Homo sapiens: one gene and its partners. The protein of the gene in region 1 interacts with the protein of each later gene in a pairwise test. Each region holds a gene or a part of one and is shown in the gene's direction. Other genes may lie near its edges.

The links. The genes of interacting proteins can lie anywhere in the genome.
Region 2: the proteins of ZNF622 (region 1) and MAP3K5 interact in binary tests that used the Homo sapiens proteins (3 or more experiments, as listed by UniProt).
Region 3: the proteins of ZNF622 (region 1) and BEND7 interact in binary tests that used the Homo sapiens proteins (3 or more experiments, as listed by UniProt).

What each region holds. Positions count from the first base shown.
Region 1 is NC_000005.10:16,459,301-16,462,800, reverse strand, and holds part of ZNF622 (cytoplasmic 60S subunit biogenesis factor ZNF622), read left to right. Parts: intron 1-3,500. UniProt on the Homo sapiens protein: Pre-60S-associated cytoplasmic factor involved in the cytoplasmic maturation of the 60S subunit.
Region 2 is NC_000006.12:136,694,978-136,698,477, reverse strand, and holds part of MAP3K5 (mitogen-activated protein kinase kinase kinase 5), read left to right. Parts: intron 1-1,090; coding exon 1,091-1,259; intron 1,260-2,420; coding exon 2,421-2,527; intron 2,528-3,500. UniProt on the Homo sapiens protein: Serine/threonine kinase which acts as an essential component of the MAP kinase signal transduction pathway. Plays an important role in the cascades of cellular responses evoked by changes in the environment.
Region 3 is NC_000010.11:13,522,515-13,526,014, reverse strand, and holds part of BEND7 (BEN domain-containing protein 7), read left to right. Parts: intron 1-3,500.

The sequences.
Region 1 (3,500 bases):
TCACATATTGGGTTCCTGGAGAGTCCTTGCATCACCAGCTGTCTCCTGAAGGAGTTGAGACAGTTGCTAAACCAGGCCCAAACCAGGCATCTGATGGTGAGATTACCCCATTGGTGGTTCACCCCTAACTAGAATCTTTTTTTTTCTCTGAGAAAGATTTTTGCTGTCACCCAGGCTGGAGGACAGTGGCACAATCATGGCCTACTGCAGCCTCAGCTTCCCTGAGCTCAGATGATCCTCCCACCACAGCCTCCCCAGCAGCTAGTGTGCACCAATATGCCCTGCTAATTTTTGTACTTTTTGTAGAGATGGGGTTTCGCCATGTTACCCAGGCTGGTCTTGAACTCCTAGACCCAAGTGATCCACCCACCTCAGTCTCCCAAAGTGCTGGGATTACAGGTGTGAGATACCATGCCCGGCCCTAACTAGAATCTTGAATTTTTTTGTATGTCATTTAGCAAATGTATGTTAAGTACTTGTGAACAACTAGTTGTCAAAATTCCTGTGAGCTAGCACAGGAGATAAGCAGATGTGTATAATTACCATGCCAGGCATGCATAGACCAAGTGATACCATGTTCAGAAAAGTCTCAGTCTTTTAAGTCTTCCTTTTGCATTTTCTCCCTGATTTCTCATTTTGCAGCTGGAGACTTGCAGTTGGTGGACATGACTGGGTGGAGGTAGAGGGGAGGATTAGAGGCTGTGGCAGTAGAGAAGACAATGAATGTCTGCTGGTGGTGGGAAGCATCCTCTTTCAGTATTTATCCCTCTCAAGTTTCCTTTTAGACAGCAGTGTTTATGACCTTTTGACTGATGTTGTAATCAGAGTGGTCAAAGCAAATACCATGGATAGTTAAGCAGCTGCCATCAGCAGTAGGCTTGGAATGCCCAGCACTCAGTCTCTCATCCTGTGGTTATATTCAGAATCCTACCCAGTCTCATAGATTTCAATATCTTCTGTAGGCCCGTGACCCCCACATTTATATCTCTAGTATAGCCTTCCCCTCAGCTGTAAACTGAAGATATCCAGCTGCCTCCTTGATATTTCTACTTGTGTCCAAAAGGAATCATTAACTTAACCTGTCCAAAATCAACTCCTGCTATGCATCCTAGTCTGCTCTCTGTAAGTAAATGGCATCTCTGTCCTTCTAGTTACTTAAGCCAAATGCCATGCAGTCTTCCTTTATTCTTCTATTTTCTTTCATGCTTACATTAGAATCGATCACCAAATTCTGCTTTATCTGCTTTTGCACTATCTATCTTCAGAGGCTGACTGCTTCTCACTACTTCTATGGCTACTACCCAGGTCCAGGGCACCATCATCTTTCGCCTGACTTCCTACAGTAGCCTCCTGCTGCCTGGTCTCCATATTTACATCCTTACTACCCACTATGTTCTATTCTCAAAACTGTAACTAGGGGGATCCTTTTAAAACATTAAGTGAGGTCAAACTCTGCTCAGATTCTTTCAAAGACTACCTATCTTACTCAAAGTAAAAGCCAAAGTATAATGGCCTGCAAGGCCCTGCACATAGTGTGGAGCATCTGTGGTTCTGTGGTTTTGTATTAGTTGCTCTCTGGATTCCTAACTATTCCTCTAATGCATCAAGTGTGTTTCTCAAGACCTTTGCATTTGCTGCTGTATTTGTTTATAGTATTCGCTTAGATATTCACTTGACTTGTCCCTCACTTCTTGCAGGCCTTGACATAAATTTCACCTTCTCAGTGTGGCCTTTTTTGACCACCTTCCATAAAATAACACCTACCCAATCCTTTTTATCCTGTTTTATTTTTCCTTATATCCCCTACTGCCATTGTGTGTATTGTATATTATTTATTGTCTCCTCCTTCTAGAATCTAAGCTTCAAGCCCTAGCCTTTTGTTGTTGTTACTCTTGTTCTTTACTGGGTGTTGCTTAAACCGTTAGTTTGAATTAAAATATGTAACTGATGGAAACGGTTCTCCCTTAGTCCAGATGATGTATTTTTCATTCCATTTACAGTTTTATTCTGTTGGTGCCTAGAAATGAGAAATTATATGAACTTTTCTTCCTAAAAATGAATATTAAATGATTTGTTTGTCTTAAAAAAATAAAAGTCAGCCAAGTGTGGTGGCATGAGCCTGTAGTACCAGCTGCTTAGGAGGCTGAGGTAAGAGGATCACCAGAGGCCAGGAGTTTCAGGCCAGCCTAGGTGACACAGTGAGACCCTGTCTCTAGGGGAAAAAAAGGAAAAAAAAAAAAGTTGATAATGCTTAATAAAGAAAACTTGGAAAATAGAAAGCCTTTACATACAAAGCTAGTGTTTATGGAGTGCTTACCTGCCAGACACTGTTCTAATAAGCATTTTATGTGGATTCACTCAGCTAAAAAATGACAAATTACCTAAATTTCACTCCCCTTCACAAGGTAACTTGTTTACTTATTTTGGACCTGAAACTTTTTATTGAAGAATAAACTTACAGAAAAGTGCATATATGTATACAGCTGGCCCTCTGTAGTCATAGATTCTCCATCTGTGCATCCAAACTAAAGTATTCGAAAAAAATTTTGTCCATACTGAACATGCACAGACTTATTTTTCTTGTCATTATTCCCTAAACGTTTAGTACTGTGTAACAACTATTTACATAGCATTTACAATGTATTAGGTATTAATAAGTAATATAGAGATGATTTAAAGTATGCAATGATTTAGGTTATATGCAAATGTTATACCATTTTATATCAGGGACTGGAACATCTGCAAATTTTAGTATCCTAGGGAGGTCCTGGAAGCAATCCCCCATGGATACCAAGGGATGACCGTACTTGTGATATCATGATTCAGTGTAGTGAAATTTTAAATATAACTAGCACCTAGATCAAGAAACAGCATGTTAATAATACCCTGACATTTCCCTTGTGTGTCCTTCCAGAAACTACCCCTCCTTTCTCCAAGAGTAACTACTATTCTGACTTATAGCTGCATAGATTGGTTTTGCCTGTTTTTATACTTTATATAAATGGAATCACAAAGAATGTACTCTTGGGTGTGGCTTCTTTTGCTCAACTTTATGTTTGGGAGACCCATTCATACTATTTTATATAGCTGTGGAGAGTTCTTACTGTTACAGAGTGTTCTGTTCAGTGCTCCACAACATCTAGTCTACTGTTGATACACATTTGAGTGGTTTCTAATTTGGGGCTATTACAAACAATGCTGCCACATCATTCTAATGTGTCTTTGGCAAATGTTTATAGGTTATCTGTTGTGTGTATATGTAGGAGTTGGGCCAGAGGATATACATATGTTCCATTTTAGAAAATACTGTCAAATTGGTTTCCAAAGTGGTTTTCTATACTCCCACTTGTAGTGAGGGAGAGTTTTTCATCTTAGCAACTTTGGTGGGTGTGTAGTGGCTTTAATTTGCATCTCCCTGATGATGATTACTGCAATCAAGAGGCTTTTTGCATATTCATTGGCCATTTGGATATCTTTTTGTGAGGTATCTGATCAAGCAT
Region 2 (3,500 bases), on another chromosome or scaffold:
TTAATAATGCCATTTGGTGATGACAATAAAGTGTTATTCTACATCTTTATTTGTGCATGATATCAGGTGCTCCTGAGATATCAGTATACAGCTAAGAACTAGGGGGAAAATGTTTATTATCCTCCAAGTAGATAAAATAGATGCCACATAATACATTTTATTCACAGAACAGCAACTTGAAATCAGCAAAAAATTAAAAAGTCTACTAACCGCTTTATAGTGATGGTAGAACTAAAAATATATACAAAGCAAGTACAGAAACAATACCAGGATAAATGTCCAGGGACTTCTAGTGTAAGGGCAAGAACAATTCAACTTTAATTAACTCTTAACTCTAATTGTTCTTTCAGTGAAGAACAATTATTTATGTTAATAAATGATAGGCTGAGTCAGGAAGTTAAGGTTATATTATGTTCAAATCATAGGTACATCACGGCCAGTGCCGTGGCTCATGCCTGTAATCCCAGCATTTTGGGAGGCCGAGGTGGGCAGATCACTTGAGATCAGGAGTTCGAGACCAGCCTGGCCAACATGCCGAAACCCTGTCTCTACCAAAAATACAAAAATTAGCCAGGTGTGGTGGTGCACACCTGTAATCCCAGCTACTCACAAGGCTGAGGCAAGAGAATTGCTTGAACCCAGGAGATGGAGGTTGCAGTGAGCCAAGATCATGCCAGTATACTCTAGTCTGGGCAACAGAGTGAGACTCTGTCTCAAAAACAAAAACAACAAACAAACAAAAAATCATAGGTACATCTAATTTATTTAGAACAATTTGTACTGGAAACAGTAAAATGGAAAACAAAGTTTTGGCATTTTAAGTGGTTTTTTGCAGGAAAATTTATTAATATGGAGTACCTTTACCTTTAATTCTTTCTGAAGGCAGAGTAATAAAAGAAATACATTGGCTTCTAAATTTCTTAATAATGCCAGATATGTAAGATATTTATTTAGGCATCTGAATGAACTGAAAACTACAAATGCTTTATAGCTAATGCTGCAATATCATTCATGTCTTTATTAAAATTATTGCTTTTCATTGAAATTGTTTCTAATGTCAAACTCTTTGAAATGTGTGTGTTTTTACCAGCCAGTACTTCCGGGAATCTATACTCAATGACATCAGGAAAGCTCGTAATTTATACACTGGTAAAGAATTGGCAGCTGAGTTGGCAAGAATTCGGCAGCGAGTAGATAATATCGAAGTCTTGACAGCAGATATTGTCATAAATCTGTTACTTTCCTACAGAGATATCCAGGTGAGAAGATGTTTAAAGTGAAATCTTTGTTGTGTAGCATGTTGGAGGGATAAGGGAGTATTAACCTCAAATTTCAGTTTGCTGGTAAGCAGTTCATGTTACTACACGTAATTTTTTATTGACTCTCTTAAGCTTTCCATCCTATAATTTTATGATGAATGAAAAAGACTCATGTGAGTTAACCATCAGTGATTGTGAAAGACTTGTATGGTAAAGGCCTGACTTTTTCCTCCAAAAGAACAAAAAGAAAAATCTGCTGGCACAGCGAACCTGTGGACACAGTCTATTCTACTGTTAGCCTCAGGCACACCTGTCAGTGAAAGCTTTGTTTTGGCAAATAGCAGACATTTTTAGAGCTTTCTGGACATACCTTTTATCCCTTGAAATTGTATTGCTTGAAATTGATAGTGCTGAATCTAACTCGCCTGAAGGAAAAAATATGTAATTGATTACCTACAGAAATAACTTTAAAAATATGTAATGTAAAACACACTAACAGGTTATATCATTTTTATTGACATGTCTTAAAATTTTAAAAATAGGGTAAGTGGAATAAAATCCTCTCCAAGTTAGGGATTTGCTCTTAGGTTTTAATAGTAAAATTTAAATGACATCTGGTTTCTCCTTTCCATTCCTAGCCTTTCAGGTCTGTGTAAAGGCTTCATGTGCTCAAGACAGACTCACATCCATGGAGGGCTGTGGCACATAGGATCCTGTGGCTAGAGTGCTTACTCATGTGACATGAAACTGTGTTGCTACTTGTAACAGAAGTTCAACCCATTGCCTCATGTCCTTGACATTTTTATTTCCCTGAAATTGTTAGAACACTGCATACCGGGAATCTGGCTCTATGGGGAAATAAATCACCCATATTTAGACAGTAGAGCACTATCATGCTTGGTGTTTTTGTTTCTTTTGCTTTTTTAGTTTTTGTTCAACATGGTAACTGTATGTTTCTAATGTTTTTATATATACGATCTAAACCTTTTAGAAGAAAAACAACAAAAACTGTTTATTCTAGGTTCTTCAAAGTGTTCTGTGGATTCTAGTGTCTTTTTAATGTGTTTCTTGAATTCAGATATCTGGTTGTCAAAAGACACGTTATTGTGAGAATTTTCTCCTAATGGTTTAATTCTGTGCTATTCTCATCTAATTTGAAAGGACTATGATTCTATTGTGAAGCTGGTAGAGACTTTAGAAAAACTGCCAACCTTTGATTTGGCCTCCCATCACCATGTGAAGTTTCATTATGCATTTGCACTGAATAGGTAAGAAGAAAAAGTTCCCTTCCAGAATGCGTTAACATATTATTGTGTAACCTGCAATTCTTTACAGAGAATGTGTTCACTGCAGCATTGCAAGAAGTCCCTATTAAAATGTAATATTAGCATATCTGCTTCAGCCCCATGAAATATAGGAAGCATGCATTCTCATTTTTTTCTGATTTATTTTTCAGTAAAAAAAAAGTCGCACACTGTTGGTATATTTAAATTCTTACAGGTTTTCTGCTCTGTCAAAGTTTGTATTTGCTATTCATATTTTTTAGAATTGTAAAAGTTACATGAATATGATGTTATCTTTAAGCAAATACACTCAACACCAGATGGTCATTCACACAAAAGTTTTCACTAGAGTAAGGATGGTTATGTCTAGGTGAACATAGTGTTAGATAGTTATTACCAAGGATAAAAAGGAATTTCTTGGACAGAAGATTTGAAGTAGTAATTGAGAATAGAAATGATACCTTTTTTATAATAGCTTTATTGAAACATATTTCACAGGCTGGGCGTGGTGGCTCACTCCTGCAATCCTAGCACTTTGAGAGGCCAAGGTGGTCGGATTGCCTGAGCTCAGGAGTTCGAGAGCAGCCTGGGCAACACGGTGAAACCCCGTCTCTACTAAAATACAAAAAAATTAGCCAGGTGTGGCAGTGTGCACCTGTAGTTCCGGCTACTCGGGAGGCTGAGGCAGGAGAATCGCTTGAACCTGGGAGGCAGAAGTTGCAGTGAGCCAAGATCATGCCACTGCCCTCCAGCCTGGGCAACAGAGCAAGACTCTGTCTCCAAACAAACAAACTAAATATATTTCATCAAAACAATAAATTTTAAAACATTTTCATCACTCCACAAGGAAACCCTGTACCCATTAGCAGCCCCCCTTCCATTTCCCTCCCAAATCCCCCAACTCTAGGCAACCACGAATCTACTTTCAGTCTTTACAGATTTGCCTATTCTGGACATT
Region 3 (3,500 bases), on another chromosome or scaffold:
AAGACCTTTTATTTTACAGATTGCCAATATATCCCTTATTAACATTGCTAAAAGTTGTAATTTCAGACATAAATGTTTATTAGTGTCTACACACAGTGCTAATTATCACTCACTCACAGAGCCAGATGCTGACTGTGCAGTTTTGTGGCTCTGCGCTCACCCCATTTACATTGCATATTCGTTGGCATGCTTCACTGGCAATAGTTTGTGTAATTGGGGTATTACATCTTTGACATCTGGATAACAGAAATTCAATTTCCAGGAAGCTGCTATTTGTTTGGTTTTGCTTCTGCCTTGGGTGGGATAGAGGATTAATGTGCTGTCTTATAATGTCCCTTCACCTCTGTGGCCCAGTTGCTAATCCTGCCATGACAAAATTAAATTAAATCTACAGTCAAAAAGCATAAGGAAAATAAAAGTGTGACTGTCTGCCTAACCAGCTCTTGATAGTGCTAGTTATCATCAAGCAGCTCCTCATTTTCCTGACTTTGTGCTCCTTTCACACCAGCATTTTGGGACAGGGGGAACAGCATGCTTTCCTCTTACCATCCTTGTTCCCAGCTCACGTCAGGGATGAGCAGAGCTAAAACAGCATTTCTGAGACTTTCCAGCAAGTGTAGCTGCATGATGGGTGGGTAGGTAGCCACAAACATTGCCACCTTTTCCATGTGCAGTGTTGGTGCAAATACTGTACAGGAAAGACTTTGGATGTGCAGTTTTTTATTTGCACACAATCAGCCAAAAATGAAACCACGTAAGATTTTGCCTCTAAGAGTGAAGTACCCATAAGGTCAGGGTGGAGAGTAGATGGTGGCGTTGGGCCTCAACCTTGTCCATCTTGGACCTCTGCAATCCCAGGTAGCAGGGTGAGGGCACAGCACTGCACAGCAAGGAAGCAGAACATGAGAGAGGTCAGAGCGAGAACGATTACAAGCAAAGCCACAATTACCCCATCAAGGGGGACTTCAGGTAGCAGGACTGCTGCTCAGACCCGGTGTGGGTCAGCCTTCAAACGAAGCTCTCGCCAGGATCTCTCTGGTTTTGCTTTGAGGGATAGAAAGGGTGGGTCGGGATGCATTGGGAAGAAGTCAAATATTAATATATACTTTAAGAGGAAAAATAGGAGGGAAATGTCAGCATTTCTTACATGAGCGATCATTGATAGCACATAGATCTTTCTGCTGAGGGAAAGAATATCACTGGGGCCAGCACTGCTCCCAGTACCTGTTTACTGTTAAGAGAGCTAGGAGCCAAAAGGTTAATAATCAAGTGAAATGCTGTGGCCCAGAAAGAGAATATTCTTGGATTCTAGTCTTTCCAGTCCCCTAAACTTGGTCAGTTGGAATTCTTTTTTTTTTTTTTTTTTTTTTGAGACGGAGGTTCACTCTTTTTATCCAGGCTGGAGTGCAATGGCATGATCTCGGCTCACTGCAACCCCTGCCTCCCAGGTTCAGGCGATTCTCCTGCCTCAGCCTCCTGAGTAGCTGGGATTACAAGCACCTGCCACCACGCTTGGCTAATTTTTTGTATTTTTAGTAGAGACAGAGTTTTACCATGTTGGCCAGGCTGGTCTCAAACTCCTGACCTCAGGTGATCCACCTGCCTCAGCCTCCCAAAGTGCTGGGATTACAGGCGTGAGCCACCGTGCCTGGTTGGTCAGCTGGAATTTTGTATTATCAAAGTACCACTCTATATAGCCATTCGAAATAACGAATTTACCCTTTAGTAGAAAATTTACGTTCACCATACAAAGGGAACATCATGTCCTTGATTTAGTTCTCCAGCAAGGCAGGCTTTCCCGCACTTTCTGTTGTGTACTACTAGAAAAGTGGTAAGGTCACTACGAAGGAAGTGAATTGTAAGGATAAGAGAGGGGAAGCTGAAGAGCAACAGGATGCTAGTGCCCAGGATTCAGTAAGCTGGAAACTCCCAGAGATGATAGACGTTGTTGCTTTTCTTCTTCCTAGTCCAAGTTGAGGAAGATGCAAGAATTCCAATGAAGGACCAGGCTTGAGATAGATACGCTTTCAAAGTGGTTGCTCCAGAAGGCCTTCAACATCAAGAGACAAAAGATTGAACAGCCTGGGAGTGTGCTGTGGGTTATTTTCAATCTTTTGCTCATTCTTGGGTCATCATGTAGTTGGTTCCCAAATAACATTTTTATTTTGTGATCTCTAGGTCAGTTAAGAAAAAATAACAGAAATTGTCACAGCAACATGATTTCTGGAGCAATTGAGAATAGTTACTGATGGCATCTGAGAGTAGGAATTTTTTGTTGACAGTGTTATAGTTTATAGTTTTATAGTTACACTTTTCAAAACATAAAGATTTCAATTATGTTTATTTTATAAATTGCTAAAGCCTGTCCATAAAGATGTAGAATTATATGGGAAGCTTATGACATCCAAGGGGGTTTGGTACCAAAATACTAGAACTCTTTCCCCTATAACAAAGTACTGACACACTGTCCCAGGGATGGTCTATAGGATTTTCTACATTCAAACATATGTGTTCCCTTTAATAGTATCTGCATCTATAAGATCAAAGTTTATGTTCTAGGTGAAAAAGAGTCTTCTAGAATGTGGCAGAGGTTCCCACATCAAGTCTACCTCTCTGGAACATGTTTAGGCTGTTAACGAACGTAGTGTATCTCACATGGTAGGGTAGCTCAGTAGTGTAAATGGCTTGGCCTCGTGCTTTAGGAATTACTCACATATTTTTAATTGGATAATAGGGTCAGAAGACGTTACTTTACCCTGTGGACATTGACTTTCTCAAGCTGGCTGTGATGGGACTACAGTGAAGATTTAAGCACTGTTTGAAAGGAAACAGTTCTCTTAAATCAGTTCAGCCAGTGTCTTTATAGAAGATACTCTGAACTCAGCACTTTTCTGGAATGGGAGTGGGGTCAGAGATAGTCACAGAAATGGATAGGACAGGGACCTTGTTCTCAGGGATTCAGATCCAGCTGGGGAGGAGACAGGACAAATTCAGGAAACGGAGCAGTATTCAGCAATCGTAAGAGCTACAGTTGTTTGAGCACTTAACTGTGTGCAAGGCAGCACACTGAGCACTTTACATGAAAGACCTGATTTGCTCTTTGCAGCATGTCTGTATGAGTTACCGTCATCCCCATTTTGTAGATGAGCCTAGAGATGTCGAGGTGACCTGCCCAAGGTCTCTCAAGTAGGAAGTGCCACAGGTAGGGTTCCAGTGCAGGTCTGTCTGAGCTTTGAACACTCCACTTAACCGCCTGTCTGTGAACGGTAATTAAATGACAAATGTGAATGATCAGGGCAACAGCAAATGCAGAGTTGGAAGGGGTAGAGGGGAGGGCTCTGCAAAGCAGAGATGTTGAACTACAGGAAAGATTCGCTCCTGTATTTCTCCTCCCTGGAGAAGATTCCAGGTGGGAAGGGTGAGGGAGCCGCCAATAAGCATCATTATAGCTCGACCATGAGTGTTGCACTTATGGTTTAGAAAGTGCTTTCACATCTGTC